Linked DNA regions of Homo sapiens: region 2 is linked to region 1. Evidence: fine-mapped expression QTL. Tissue or cell type: whole blood. Region 1 holds a variant in brackets; the other region holds the start of a gene. All regions are shown on one strand. Distances are between the middles of the regions.

Evidence for each region. PIP is the estimated chance that this variant, and not a neighbour inherited with it, causes the effect.
Region 2: ABAT starts here. The variant in region 1 is fine-mapped to the expression of ABAT in whole blood (INTERVAL, PIP above 0.99).

Annotation. Positions count from the first base shown.
Region 1 is chr16:8,726,303-8,734,407 of GRCh38, reverse strand. All of the region lies in intron 1 of ABAT (4-aminobutyrate aminotransferase), which reads right to left. Among named protein-coding and RNA genes, the nearest start is that of ABAT, 56 kb to the right of the region's middle. RefSeq lists an enhancer at 1,769-2,354 and a silencer at 7,015-7,243. The variant T/C (reference allele first, on the strand shown) is at 4,417.
Region 2 is chr16:8,669,838-8,677,928 of GRCh38, reverse strand. It overlaps ABAT (4-aminobutyrate aminotransferase), which reads right to left and starts at 3,312. Exons shown (of 16, transcript NM_020686.6): 1 at 3,218-3,312. RefSeq lists a silencer at 3,260-3,719 and enhancers at 3,314-3,813, 3,814-4,315.

The sequences.
Region 1 (8,105 bases):
TTTATTTTGCAACAAGTACTCCATTGAGTGCTGACTTTGTACCAAGTACTGTTTCTCAGACTGGACATACAGGGATGAATGAGGCAGGCCTGGAGCTTACATCTTCATGAGGAACAAAGAGAATGAAATGAATCATAACATAAACAAGGGCATCATTATAATGGGGAGAAGTGCCTTGAAGGAAAAGTGAAAGGTGCTAGGAGCATGATTTATCAGGCTTCTTTCACGTGCCAGCAACAATGGGGCAGGCGTGATTATCCCCATTTTACAGATGAGGAAACTGAGGCTCCAGAAGTGAGGTATTTTAACCCATGTTCACTGTAGCATTATTCACAATAGCCAAGAGGTGGAAGCAACCTAGACGTCCATTGACAGATGAATGGGAAAAAATATGCTGTATCCACAGAGTGGAATATTATGCAGCCTTAAAAAAGGAGGAAATCCTGTTATATGCTGCAACATGGATGAGACTGGAAGACATTATGCTAAGTGAAATAAGCCAGTCACCAAAGGTCAGATACTGCATGATTCCTGTCATATGAAACCTAAAGTAGATTAAGATTCAGTTCCCTCTCCCTCTCCCTCTCCCTCTCTTTCCACGGTCTCCCTCTCATGCTGAGCCGAAGCTGGACTGTACTGCTGCCATCTCGGCTCACTGCAACCTCCCTGCCTGATTCTCCTGCCTCAGCCTGCCGAGTGCCTGCGATTGCAGCCTCACGCCGCCACGCCTGACTGGTTTTGGTGGAGACGGGGTTTCGCTGTGTTGGCCAGGCCGGTCTCCAGCCCCTAACCGCAAGTGATCCGCCAGCCTCGGCCTCCCGAGGTGCCGGGATTACAGACGGAGTCTCGTTCACTCAGTGCTCAATGGTGCCCAGGCTGGAGTGCAGCGGCGTGATCTCGGCTTGCTACAACCTCCACCTCCCAGCCGCCTGCCTTGGCCTCCCAAAGTGCCGAGATTGCAGCCTCTGCCCGGCCGCCACCCCGTCTGGGAAGTGAGGAGCGTCTCTGCCTGGCCGCCCATCGTCTGGGATGTGAGGAGCCCCTCGGCCTGGCTGCCCAGTCTGGAAAGTGAGGAGCGTCTCCGCCCGGCCGCCATCCCACCTAGGAAGTGAGGACCACCTCTTCCCGGCCGCCATCACATCTAGGAAGTGAGGAGCGTCTCTGCCCGGCCGCCCCGTCTGAGAAGTGAGGAGCCCCTCCACCCGGCAGCCGCCCCGTCTGGGAAGTGAGGAGCGTCTCCGCCTGGCAGCCACCCCGTCCGGGAGGGAGGTGGGGGGGGGTCAGCCCCCCGCCCGGCCAGCCGCCCCATCCGGGAGGGAGGTGGGGGGGTCAGCCCCCCGCCCGGCCAGCCGCCCCATCCGGGAGGGAGGTGGGGGGATCAGCCCCCTGCCAGGCCAGCCGCCCCGTCCGGGAGGGAGGTGGGGGCATCAGCCCCCCGCCCGGCCAGCCGCCCCGTCCGGGAGGGAGGTAGGGGGGTCAGCCCCCCGCCCGGCCAGCCGCCCCGTCCGGAGGTGAGGGGCGCCTCTGCCCGGCCTCCCCTACTGGGAAGTGAGGAGCCCCTCTGCCCGGCCAGCCGCCCCGTCCGGGAGGTGAGGGGCGCCTCTGCCCGGCCGCCCCTACTGGGAAGTGAGGAGCCCCTCTGCCCGGCCACCACCCCGTCTGGGAGGTGTGCCCGACAGCTCATTGAGAACGGGCCAGGATGACAATGGCGGTTTTGTGGAATAGAAAGGCGGGAAAGGTGGGGAAAAGATTGAGAAATCGGATGGTTGCCGTGTCTGTGTAGAAAGAAGTAGACATGGGAGACTTTTCATTTTGTTCTGTGCTAAGAAAACTTCTTCTGCCTTGGGATCCTGTTGATCTGTGACCTTACCCCCAACCCCGTGCTCTCTGAAACATGTGCTGTGTCCACTCAGGGTTAAATGGATTAAGGGCGGTGCAAGATGTGCTTTGTTAAACAGATGCTTGAAGGCAGCAGGCTCGTTAAGAGTCATCACCACTCCCTAATCTCAAGTACCCAGGGACACAAACACTGCGGAAGGCCGCAGGGTCCTCTGCCTAGGAAAACCAGAGACCTTTGTTCACTTGTTTATCTGCCGACCTTCCCTCCACTATTGTCCTATGACCCTGCCAAATCCCCCTCTGTGAGAAACACCCAAGAATTATCAATAAAAAATAAATAAATTAAAAAAACAAACAAACAAAAAAAAAAAACAAAAAAAACCTAAAGTAGTCAACCTCCTAGAAACAGATAGAGGGTCTGGGCATGGTGACTCATGCCTCTAATCCCAGCACTTTGGGAGGCCGAGATGGGTGGATCACTTGAGGTCAGGTGTTCAAGACCAGCCTGGCCAACATAGTGAAACCCCGTCTCTACCAAACATAAAAAATTACCCGGGCGTGGTTGTGAGCTCCTGTAATCCCAGCTACTTGGGAGGCTGAGGCAGGAGAATCACTTCAACTCGGGAGGCAGAGGTTACAGTGAGCTGAGATCGCACCACTGCACTCCAGCCTGGGCGACAGGGCGAGACTCTGTTTCAAGGAGGAAAAAAAGAGAAACAGAAAAAGAGGAAAAAGAGGTTGCCGAGGGCTGGGGGAAGGGAAAAAAGGACATTGTTTAGTGTGTTTGGAGTTTCAGTTTGCAGGATGAAGTAGTTCTGGAGCTTCACTATACAACAAAAGTGCTTATAATACCGTACTGTATACTTGAAAATGGTGAAGATGGTAAATTTTATGTTATCTGTGTGATTTTTAAAATAACAATTAAAAAAAAAAAAAGAAAAGTGATCCAGGAAAGACATTGGTGTTGAGGTTGACATACCTATCAAGGACAACTAGACAACTACCACGGCTTCCAGTGCTTTGACAAAACTCAGGTGTGTGGCCTTCTGGTCCAGAGTCTGCCATTTCACATTGTTGGAGCAGTCATTGTATCCCTGAGAGTTGCAGCTCTCTATAAGTTTGCTGTGGCTGAACCAAGAAACAAGGCATATGTAGAAGCGATGAGGATGGCTGTTATTGTTCAGAGTGCAAAGTGATTTTGGAATATAAAGAATTTCTTTGGGTTGAGTTACCTAGAAGTTTATCACTGACCTGTGTTCCTGAACTATGAAACATGAATATGGGGGCTAAGAAATAGTTTCTCTTTGGGCTGGCAGGGTGGCTCACTCCTGTAATCCCGGAATTTTGGGAGGCCAAGGCAGGTGGATCACTTGAGGTCAGGAGTTCGAGATCAGCATGGCCAACACAGTAAAACCCTGTCTCTACTAAAAATACAAAAATTAGCTGGGTGTGGTGGTGCACGCCTGTAATCCCAGCTACTCAGGAGTCTGAGGCACAAGAATCGCTTGAACCTGGGAGGCGGAGATGGCAGTGAGCCAAGATCACACCACCGCACTCCAGTCTGGGTGATAGAGTGAGACACCGTCTCACACACAAAAAATTAGAAATAGTTTCTCTTGATAAATAAACAATTAATGAGTACTTTGGACAGTAAACAAAGTAAAACTATTTTTTTTAAAAGAAGCCATGTGGTTTACCCAGGACACAGCAAGTTGCTGGTGGAGCCAGCGTTGGGGTTGAGAGATATCTGGCTCAGGAGTCCTGGCTTGTGCCTAATGCATGGATTTATTGCGAGTTGCAACACCTGAAACTTACTCTGTGACAGACCCTGGGGACGCAGCCCTTTCCTCATGCAGCCCTGGCTTGGGCTGCCTAACTCTACCCAGCCCCACAGTGGACAGAAATTCCATCCTAGACCTGGATGAAGACCAAGAGGCTTCTCCCACCCCCTGCTTCTGTGATGACAGCATATAGGAAGTGCCAACCAGAGGTGATAAATACAGACCTAGAGAGATCCCACAGCTGGAGGGGAGGCCTGTATCCAAGGAGAGAGAACAGGGCAAGGAGGAATGACAGGCGGGTTCAGAGTACAGGTTCAGGTGCTGGGAAACACGTGGGCTCAGCAGCACAGGGCAGGAATAGTGTGGAGAATCAGGCACCGAGCCCAGGATGGCGAGTTCCAGCACGCTGTGGCTGCCCACAGAGCTAATAGAATGTTGGCTGTATTATTAGAAGGAAAGAGTGAATGAAGGAGGGAGGCGGTTGCCATTGATGCATTTGTGCTACGAACATTCATGGTACACCTACCGTGTGCCAGACCCTTCACTGGGCACTAGGGCACATAAAGATCAATTAGAGGCCGTCCTTACCCTCTAAGCATCATCAAGTACTGGGCACTTGCTATGTGCAGGCTCTCAGCTGGTGCTGTAGAACCATCTCGTTTCATCCCCAGAGCCCTAGGAGGCAGCTCCTAGAAGACAGAGACAGGTCATTATCCTGTCTTCAGGCAACTGAGGTACTATCACGGGTGGGGTGGGGTTGGTGCAGGAAGTATCTTCTGGGGTGTCTGCTCTGCAC[T/C]TCCTTCCTCCCCCTTCTCAGATACTTCCCCATTCCTCTGCGGGGGCATAGACCTGGCCCTACTGGCCATGGTTGACTAGACAGGGCTGGGCCAGAGTCCTGACACTCTCTACCCACTGAGATGATCCAGCATTCAAACAGGGTCTTTTTTTTTTTTTTTTTTAAGACAAAAAAGGGCTAGACAAAAGAAAGACTAGAGAGCAGTGGCGTGATCATTGCTCACTGCAGCCTTGAACTCCTGGGCTCAAGAGATCCTCCCACCTTAGCCCTGCCAAGTAGCTGGGACTACAGGCATGCACCACCATACCCAGCTAATTTTTAAATATATATATTTTTTAGAGACAGGGGTCTCGCTGTGTTGCCCAGGCTGGTCTCAAACTCCTGTGCTCAAATGATCCTCCCATCTTGGCTCCTGAAGTGCTGGGATTATAGGCATGAGGCATGGTGCCTGGTCTTTGTGAGACATTCTGAAGGGTACATTACTCCCTTCTCTTTGCTCAAACATCTATAGGAGTAGGGTAATCTCCCTGTTCAGAGATGATAAAAGGGAGGCTCAGAGAGGTTATGACATTCGGCCTCAGTCATAGGCTTACCTGAGACTGTCTGACCCCAAAGCCCCTGCCTCTATGCATTGTAACATCAGTTAATCCAGCTAATAACAAAACTCCTAGCTGTTTTTGTTTTTGTTGAGACAGGGTCTGGCTCTGTCACTCAGGCTGGAGAGCAGTGGTGTAATCTTAGCTTACTGCAACCTCTGCCTCCCCCAGGGTCAGGCCATCCTGCCACCTCCCAAGTACCTGGAACTACAGGCGAACGCCGCCACGCCCAGCTAATTTTTTTTTTTTTCAGTAGAGCCAGGTTTTTCTCACGTTGTGAAGGATGGTCTTGAACTCCTGAGCTCAAGTAATCTGCCTGCCTTGGCCTCCCAACGTGCTGAGATTACAGGCGTGAGCCACCGTGCCCGGCCCCTAGCTATTGTTGATATGAGGCTTCATGAATAAAAATGACGTAGTTCACAGAATAAATTTTATTGCTTTTCACCAGAGGAAACTTTCTGAGAAAGTGTGGGCTTGGAAAGTGTGGCCATGAATTAACTGAGAAACCAAACTCTTTGTTTTTGAGATGGAGTCTTGTTCTGTTGCCAGGCTGGAGTACAGTGGCGTGATCTCGGCTCACTGCAACCTCTGACTCCCTGGTTCAAGCGATTCTCCTGCCTCAGCCTCCCGAGTAGCTGGGATTATAGGCATGTGCCACCACACCTGGCTAATTTGTGTATTTTTAGTAGAAATGAGGTTTTACCATGTTGGCCAGAAGGTTCTCAATCTCCTGACCTTGTGATCCACCCGCCTCTGCCTCCCAAAGTGCTGGAATTACAGGTGTGAGCCACTGTGCATGGCCCAAACTCTTTTCTTAATAACTCAATGGATTTTTTTTTTCTATTCCAGGATATCCGACTCAATGCAAGCCTATTAATTTAGCAACAGAGTAACTGTGTAGAAAGTGCAGTTCATGTCTTTCCCTTAAAACCACTTGTCTGAAACAGGGAGCACTGAGGCGTCACACAATTCAATTTCCATTAAACACGTTTTTGAAACTCCGAATGTCTCAGAGAACTCAACATTTGAATATTCTGCAAAAGTGAGAGCCAATCCCACACGTTTTCAATTACAAAATGTCACATTGGAAAATATACCGTGGTGACATTTTGGTGGCCTGCAGTTGAAAATTGACCTTATAACAAAATCTGATCTCTGTTAGACATTAATTCTTAGCACAATATATTTCAAACAATTGGAAGAGTTAACGTCATTCATTCACTCCCTCTCATCCACTAATTCAATCAACACAAGTTAATTAGGCACCTGTTATCAGCAAGGCACTGCATCGTTTAGATATAATCAATCTCTCTCTCTCTCTCTCTCTGACAGGGTCTCACTCTGTCGCCCAGGCTGGAGTGCAGTGGGGCGATCAGGGCTCACTGCAGCCTCTATCGCCCGGGCTCTAGCAATCTTCCCATCTCAGCCGTCCAAGTAGCTGGGACTACAGGCATGTGCCATCATGCCTGGCTAATTTTTTTAAATTTTTAGTAGAGATGAGGTCTTGCTATTTTGCCCAGGCTGGTCTCAAACTCTTGAGCTCAAGTGATCCTACCATCTTGGACTCCCAAACGGTTGGGATTACAGGCATGAGCCACCGCTCCTGGCCAAGTCATCACTTCTCTTAGGAGAAACCAAGATGGATAAATTGCTTTCTTTCTGAAGCTCATAATTTAGTGGCAGAGAACTATGAGCGGAAAGAAAATGGAAGAATTTAATGTACTAGGCTGCTTTACCCATCATGTGAATACTTTCTTAAAATAACTCAGCATGATATGTACATAAAAATTTTCCAGTTCACTGTCAACAACAAATTCTGCATAAGATAGAACAGAATCACAACTATTTTGCTGGTGTGAGTGAAGTGCTAAGGGAATACGGGGAGATTCTTTCTGGCTGGGGTGACAATGTCAGGGAGGTGTTGCCTGAGCTGCATCTTCAAAAGTTAGGCGATTTCAGAAGGCAATGAAGAAAGCAGGGATAAGGCAAGTGCTCGGAGGTGTATGATGACACGGAGTAGCTAAGGATCCTGGTGCACAGTGAGAGTGGGTGTGGTAAGAAATCATAGAGCACTTGGAGGGAAGGTGAAGGTGCGGTCATCTGGAGCCAACTCGAGCAACAATTTCTAGGCTGATCTTGATTGATAGGGCCCTCTGGAGACCCTCTCAAAGGGAGGAGGGAGCCCAGCTGCTCTAGTTGCATCCAGAAGGGTCTGTCCTCCAGCAAAGGATACAACCAACAAAGCGAAGAGGCAACCCACAGAACAAGAGAAAATATTTACAAACTACTCCTCTCACAAGGGATTAATAACCAGAATATAAAAAGGAGGTCAAACAACTCTATAGAAAAAAATCTCATAATTCGATCAAAAAATGGACAAAAGATTTGAATAGATATTTCTCAAAAGAAGACATACAAATGGCAAGCAAGCACATGAAAAGGTGCTTGACATCACTGATCATCAGAGAAGGCAAATCAAAACTACAAAGAGCTGTCATCTCACCCCAGTTAACATGGCTTATATCCAAAAGACAGGCAATAACAAATGCTGGAGAGGATGTGGAGCAAAGGGAACCCTTGTACATTGTTAGTGGGAATGTAAACTAGTACAACCACTATGGAGAACAGTTGGAGGTTCCTCAAAAAACTAAAAATTGAGCTACCATATGATCCAGGAATCCCACTGCTGGGTAAATACACAAAAGGAAGGAACTCAGTATATCGAAGAGATATCTGCACTCCTATGTTTGTTGCAGCATTGCTTACAATAGCTAAGATTTGGAAGCAACCTGAGTGTCCAATAACAGATGAATGGATAAAGAAAATGTGGTTCATACACGCAATGGAGTACTATTCAGCGCAGTGGCTCACACCTGTAATCCCAGCACTTTGGGAGGCTGAGGCAGGTGGATCCCATGAGGCCAGCCTGGCGAACATGGCTAAACCCCATCTCTACAAAAAACAAAAATCATCTGGGTGTGGTGACCCATGCCTGTAGTCCCAGTTACTAGGGAGGCTGAGGCAGGAGAATCGCTTGAACCCGGGAGGCAGAGGTTGCAGTGAGCCGAGATGGCGCCACTGCACTCCAGCCTG
Region 2 (8,091 bases), 56 kb after region 1:
TGCCACCATGACCAGCTGATTTTTTTTTTCCTGTATTTTACAGAGATGGGGTTTTGCCATGTTGCCCACGCTGGTCTCAAACTCCTGGGCTCAAGCCATCCACCCGCCTCAGCTAGGAAGCTGTTTTATATTAAGTATCAACTATGTTTAAGGCCATGTATTAGACCAGCAGTTCTCAATAGCGAAGGAAAAGGATGATTTTGCTCCCCAGGGCACATCTGGCAATGTCTGCAGACATTTCTGATGGACATGACTCATGGGGTAGGGAGTGTCACTGGCATCTAGTGGGTAGAGACCAGAGGCGCTGCTGAATATCCTACAATACACAGGGGAGTCCCACAACAAAGAATCCTCTGACCCAACTGTCAACAGTGCCCAAAATGAGAACCCCTCATCTAGACCTGTCTCTTTTCTGATGTCCAACCCCAACAAACCTCATTCAAAGACGAGGAACTGAGGTTCAGAGACATGAATGACTTGCCTAAGTTTCCATAGACAGCCACTACCAGTGGCCAACTCTCTACTCCATCTGGCTTCAGGGTCTGTGGTCCATTCCACATACTACACTGTCTCTCTAGGAAGACATCCCCTTGTCCCCAGGCACCTTGGCCCTGGCAGATTATCTACGGCAAGGGTTACAAGTTTTGCCTTAAGGCATAAGCACCTCCCCACTTCATGATTAGAGGTTTTATGACTTTGCACTTGTAATCATTGTTTCTGCTCATTTTGCTGTGTGCTAAACATTTTATGAGGATTAACTCATTTTACCCCAAGGATATGTCACAGAGAGGTTAAGATCAGACACTAAGTGGCAGATTTGTGCTCTCGACCCAGATAAGAGGTCTCCAGGGACCAACCTCTCGGCCTCTCTACCGTGGTCCTCCTCATGCTTTGAACTTCGCCTTGGCAAAGTTGGGGCACAACAACCAATCCTTTAGCTGGGAACTGGGTGGGGGCAGAAACAGAGAGAGCCTCTACTTCAGACCATGCTGCCCAGCTGGGTGGTCCTAGAGAATCTGCCAGAATTTCAGCTCTTTTCCCATGCAATGCCCCAGGAGAAAAGACGCAGGCCTCTGAACAGAGATGAGACAATGTGCAGGGAACTCAAAGCCAGAGGGCGTGGGCAGGGGCTAAGAGGGAGGGGACCTTGGAGGGAAGGAATATGACATCCTCAGGACCTGTCCAAAGTTCTTGGAGCAAACCCAGCTATGCAAGTGAGGTTCCTGCAGTAGCCTCCACTCCAGCATCTCATTCTCATTAGCTGCAACTGATCTTATTAGCTATCCTGGGTCAGTTTGGATTTTGGCAAGCCTAGATTTGGCAATGGCCTCAACACAAAGATCGCACGGGGTAAGCAGGGATGCGCTGACACCCAGGAATGGATTCCACGAGGCAGCCTGCTGGGGGATGGCATTGAGTTCCAGCTCTGCCCCTTCCTGGCTTCATGACCTTTGCAGAGCCTTGGCGCTTCCTCTGACAAGTGGGGACTTGGGACCCAGCAGTCCCCAAGTCCCCATTGTAAATGTGAGGACTGGGGCTTGTGTCAGGGATCCTAGCACCTTAAGGGTCCTGGAGGGGTTGGGGCCAGCTGTCTCCCACAGGCTGGGTGACCTTGAGCAAGTCTCTTCCCCTTTTGTGCCTCTGTGTGTTTAACTGTCAAATGAAGGGGCCACGTCTTTAATGCAGAAGCCCTTTTAGGTCTTAGGACTCCAGACTGGACCATTTACCTCTCCCCGTGGCTAACCTCTTTGGGCCTCGAGAAAACACATTTCTCTATGACTCCACGCCGCAACACAGGCTCCAAAGAGCAAGACACAACTCACTGCCTCCCTCTCTCCTGCCTCCCAACCTGACCCACCAGAGAAGAGCTCTTCCCACCCCCTCCCCACCCCCAGGTCACCAACATCCTGTCCCTTAGTCTAGCTTCATCAAAGCAGCAAAGCCAACACTGTCTCCTCCCCAGTGGATGGGCCCAGCAGCACCCATTTCTCTTGGCTGAGTGCCCAGGGAATTCCACCAGGCAATGTCCACAGGCGCTTGCGGGGGTGCACACTTTAGGGGGGAAATGCGGGCCCTCTTGGAAGAGGGCCAGCTGTCCTCCCAGACTGCAAGAGAGAATGCATTGAACACAGCCTTTGTGCGTGTGTTGGGGCAGGGAGCGGGGGAGAGGTGGCGGGTGGTCTCTGCTGGTCCTGCTGCCTCAGAGGCCATCTCTGTTGTCAGAGTTTGAAGACTCCTGGAAGGGCCTCTAGGCCCCAGATCCCAGTTTTAAGAGCTCCAGTCTTACTAAATCTCGCTGAACCCCCTCTAGTCTTACCTTGGCCAGGGTGGGTGAGGAAAGGTGAGAGGATGTGAAATAGGTGGGGCAGCCAGGTGTGGGAGTGGAGTTGGGGTGAGGTGGAGAAGGATGGGATTGGGAGCGGTGGGAGGATGGTGCAGGGGGTTACTAGGATGGGGTTTGTGTGAAAGGGCTTGGGTGGAGTGGAGGGAGGTGGATGACTTGGAGGGGTGGCCAGACCTTTGCCCTGCTCCTGAGTATGAAGGTCCCTCATTTTACATCTTTACTGGGGAGGAGAGGGGAAATCCCCAAAAGCCTTTAATGTGGTGGTGTCAGAGGCCACCCTGCCTCTCTGACGGGTAGGGAGGGGTCTCCGGCAGGGCTAAGGGTGAATCATCTATCTCTCCAGAGCCCAGTATCTGGGGTGGGAGGGTGACTTGCAGAGTCTCTGCTCCGGGATTTCCTTGTCTTATGATGGGGGGAGAGCTTCCATTTGTCATGGAGGGGGAGGTCACTGTAATTTATAAGCTGAGAAGACCCCCATTATTCCGAAAGAGAGGGGAGAAGGAAGACACCCAAACTTAGTTTTCTAAGGATGGGGAAGGGGCATCAGTCTCCCAAGAGGTGAGGGGGCTCTAGAGACCTGGAGACCACTTTTTGGGGCCGCATTCTATTTCAAGCGGTAAAAGGGAGAGGACTTCTGTCTAGAGCTGGAGCCAGGAGGAAGGGCCCATTTCTGAAGGAGAAAGGAAGGTATTTTGCTCTCTGGGGGGTGGGAGCCCCTGTCTTTTCGGGGGAGGGCCCCGCGTCTTGGGAAGATGAGGGCTCCGTTTCCAGGAGAAGATGCCCAGGTTTTGCTCCTGGGGGCAGGGCAGAAGGACCTCCTCTCGGCTCCCCTCGGAAGGGCCCGTCCCAAGCCACCCGGCGCCTCGCGCTCACCTCCAGGCCCCGTCTCCGATCTGCGGGATCCGATCCGCCGGGTTCCGACTTGCGGGATGCGCGCCCCGAGTTCCGGCAGCGCTGGGTGTCTGCTCGACTTCCCCCAGCGACTCGCCGGACTCCCTGGCTCCGCCGAGCGTCCCGGCCAATCAGCGCCGCCAGCCCCGGCCCTCGCTTTCGCCACAGCCAATGGGTGCGCCCGCCACGGGCCACCGCCCCCAGGAGGGAGGTGGCAGGCGGGGCGGGGGCAGAGTCCAGCCTCCGGGGGCGGGGGAGACGGGGGCTGGGGCGGGACCCACCAGAGGGACCGCGAGGGCTGGGAGGGAGTCCTGGGACTGGGGAGGAGACGGCTGAGGACCCCCGTCAAGTTGTGGGGACCCTGACCCTCTGGGGGGCAGCTCCATAGGTTGATTTAACCTGGATCTTAATGGGCCATTTACACCCTCAGGGCTGCAGGCGAGTGTAACTCCACCTCCACCCGCGTCTCGGATCCGGTCTCTGGAGCTCCAGAGTCGGAATCAGAAGGGGTTCCTTTGCGGAGAAGGGAAGGAGCATCCCGCCCTCCCCACCTCACTCCCCATCTCGGCGCTCAGGGCCCTGCCAGCCCTTCTTGCTCCCAGCTACTTTCCTCCGCCTGGCCCCAGCGCTCCGGAAGACAAACAGGGCGCTGGGAGTCAGAGGTGGTTCCTTCTGCATGACCTGGAGCAGGTCACTGCGCCTCCTGATCCTCAATTTCCTGAAATTGGGACAACAGAGATTGTACCTCCTTCGTGGGTATAAACGAGACCCTAGATATGATGAAGGTGCCTTTCTACCGTTGTATAAAATGCTGTGTGGAAGATAATTAATACTCAGGTGTGACGGATGGATAGCCCCCCCACAGCTTTCTAGAGGTATTTGGAAAGAGGATGCAATCTTTCAGTGACAAAATCAAAGACACAAAGAACTGCTCATCAAGACAACAGGCGATCACCAAGTCCTCATAATGAATGAATGGATGGATGGAGAGTACAGACCTTAAAGGCAGAGAAAGAGTTCAGCTTGGTTCTCCCCACTCACCCTGATCACTGATAACTTGGTCTGTGGAGTCTTGTAGAACCCTGAGGTCTCTCCTCCTGCTGTCCAGGAATCCAGGCTGCCCTATCTCTGATTACACAAGCGCTATAGTCCTTGCAATTAAAGAATTAAGATAAAGTAAACACATAGATAAATAGAAAGCTGCCAAACAAATCATTCACCTCCTAGTGTCACCTCTGGGGACCCTCCCCCCCAACACACACACACACACACACACACACACACACACACACACACAGAGCAGTAAATAAGAATAATTGAGGCCTGGCACAGTGGCTTACGCCTGTAATTCCAGCACTTTGGGAGGCCGAGGCAGGCAGATCACTTGATGCCCAGAGCTCGAGACCAGCCTGGCCATCATGGGGAAACCCCCTTTCTATTAAAAATACAAAAATTAGCCTGGCATGGTGGCACCTGCCTGTAATCCCAGCTACCTGGGAGGCTGAGACATGAGAATCGCTTGAATGGAGAGGCAGTGGTTGCACTGAGGTGAGATGGCACCACTGCACTCTAGCCTGGGTGATTGTCACCTTGCTTGAGGAACTTGATGAGGCCTGTGCTGAAAATCTAGCAATTTTTTCTTAAAACCAAAGCCATGAACATAATCCCCTTTACTACCCTTGACCTGCCCAAAGAAATACAACGGCCAATAAACATGGGAGATGACACTTTGAAAAGGAAAGGCAAGTTAAAACCAAAAGAGGGAAAGAGTTTACCTACCAAAATGACCTTGTTTTTATTATTATAATTACTATTCTTTGCAAAGACTTCAAGGAGTTTCATGTATTGATGATGGCAGTAGAAAGATCACAGCCTTTCTGGAGGGAAATTGGGTATTTCTATTTTAAAAATCTTAAAAGTAAGTTGACCCTTTGATCTAGCAATCCAATCCCTATGAACTTATCTGAAAACATTTAAAGGTACAAAGATTTAATGATAAAGTAGCTTACTACCATTTTGTTTATCACAGGGAAAAACTGGGAACAACTTGAATGCACAACAGCAGGGACTCAGAGGGAAATTGTTGCATGAAATTGAACAATAAACATAGGTATGAAATATTGAATGGGGCTGGGTGTGGTGACACGCCTGTAATTCCAGCACTTTGGGAAGCCAAGGCAAGAGGATCGCTTGAGCCAAGGAGTTCAAGACCAGCCTGGGTAACATAGTGAAACCCTGTCTCTACAAAAAATACAAAAATTATCCGGGCGATGTGGCGCATGCATGTAGTCCCAGCTACTCAGGAGACTGAGGCAGCCTTGAGCCTGGGAGGTTGAGGCTGCTGTGGGCCAAGATTACACCACTGTACTCCAGCTGGGTGACAGAGTGAGACCCTGTCTCAAAAACAAAACAAAACAAATCTCAAAATGTTAAGTTATTTGCAAAAACAGTATATTTGGTACTGTCTTACTTTTTGTTAAACATCTTACTTTTTGTTAAATCTACCAGGTAGAGCTAGATCAATGCTGTGTAATATAACTTTCTATGATGCTCTATATCTGTGCCGTCCCGTGTGGTAGCCACTAGCCACATGGAGGTATTGAACACCTGAAATGACTAATTTTGGTATCCAAGATGTTTAAAAAAAAAAAAGAAAGAAAGAAATAATAAAAAAAGGAAAAGGGAAAAATAAATTTAAAATTTTGGAAAAAGCAATGACTAGTTAACCGAATAACTGTATTTTAATTGTATCTATTTATTTATTTTTTTAGAGACGGAGTCTCGCTCTGTCACCCAGGCTGGAGTGCAGTGGTGTGATCTCAGCTCGCTGCAACCTCTGCCTCCCAGGTTCAAGCGGTTCTCCTGCCTAAGCCTCCTGAGTAGTTGGGATTACAAGCGTGCTCCACCACGCCTGGCTCGTTGTTTAATTTTTTAATTTTTAGTAGAGACAGGGTTTCGTCATGTTGGCCAGGCTGGTCTCAAACTCCTGGCCTCCAGTGATCTGCCTGCCTCAGCCTCCCAAAGTGCTGGGATTACAGGTGTGAACCACCACGCCCAGCCTGTATCTAATTTTAATTTAAGGTGTAACAGTAACAGGTAGCTAGTGGCTATCATATTAAAAGGCACCGATATAGCTAGCTAGCAATGCTGAGTGAAAAACTGTGTTCAGTAGGAGAATGGTTATTTTTGTGTATTGAAATTATAGATTATTCTAATATTACTTTATTTGCATGTCCATGTCAGTAATTTCTTTTTATCCCCTTGGGTTTATTTTTAATAGAGGATAAACTTTACAATGTCACTAATTTCTAATTATTCTGTAATGAATATATATTACTCTGGTACTAAGAAGAAAATATTTAAAATGAAAAACAGAAAGGAAAAGTCTAAACCAAAGGGCCCGGAGTGGTGGCTCACACCTGTAATCCCAGTATTCTGGGAGGCTGAGGCGGGCAGATCACTTGAGGCCAGGGGTTCGAGACCAGCCTGGCCAACATGGCGAAACCCCATCTCTATTTATAAATAATTTTTTTTTAAAAAAGAGTCTAAGCCAAAGGTTGACAAACTATAGCTCATAGACCAAATGTAGTTCATCATGTTTTCCTATGACCATGAGCTAAGATTGGTTTTACATATTAAATGGTTAAAAAAATTCACAAGAAGAATAATGTTATGTGACACATAGAAACTACATAAAATTCAAATTTTACTGTGCATAAATAAAATTTTATGGGAACACAGCCAGGCCTATTTATTTATGCATTGTCTATGGCTGTCTGTGAGCTACAACAGCAGAGCTGAGTAGCTGTGACAGAGACTCTGTGACCTGAAAAGACAACAATATTTACCTTCCAGCCCTTTGCGAAAAATCTGCCGTGTCCTGGTCTAAGGCAATCAAGGGAAATAAGAAGTGTGTGTAGCCATCTTCATTCATCTGTTCATTCATTCATTCAACTAGGTTTTGAGCACCCATTTGTGGGTCAGGCCCTAGGAAAGGGCACTTCTAGAGGATAAAAGGAGCTGCTTTGTCTCTACTTAAGGACTAGGGAGAGAAGGCTATTTAGAGCCAGGTGCTTTGCAAGCTGATTCTCAAATAGCTTCATTGTGATACTTGTGAAGAAAACTGTCAGCATGTGGAAAAAGCCCTTTCCATATTGGCTTCCCTTGCATTTTCTGCCATTCTGCAGTTTTCCTATGGAGCTGCTTGGGGTTGCAGCTGTCTGCCAGGGAATGCAGAGTGTTTCCCAGAGTTTGGCTGAGGCCTGGGATGAAGACTCACCCATACTCTGTGCCTATCAATAAGCTCCTTCCAGAAGCGCAGCTGTAGCTGGGAGGGCCCCCACTGCACTCTGGAGAGGAGAAATGAAAACAAAGGCAAGGGTGAATGAGGCTCCAAGGGTACCAGTTGTCTCCACAGGAGAGACTCTTAGAGATCAGCAGCCCATTGTACAGAAGAGGAGACTGAGGCCCAGAGAGGAGGAATAACTTGTCCAGAGCCAGATTAAAGCACATATTTTATTGACTAGGCCTGTGATTTCCACATCCCTGGTCACAAAATAATAAAGAGATATCATCTATACAAAATAATAAAGGGCATTTTGATGTGGTGGAAAGGGGATCAACTTGGGAGTCAGACCTAATATTGAATTCTAGTTCCAACTCCCAATGGCTATGTGACTCTGGACATGTCATTTACTCCCTCTCAGTCTCTATGTTCTAATCTGTAAATTGAATAAAGTATCTACCACGTTTTCACATGTAAAAGAAAGAAGATAGACGCTTACCTCACACCATATAAAAAAACTAACTCAACATTGGATCAAAGACCTAAATAAATATAAGACCTAACACTATAA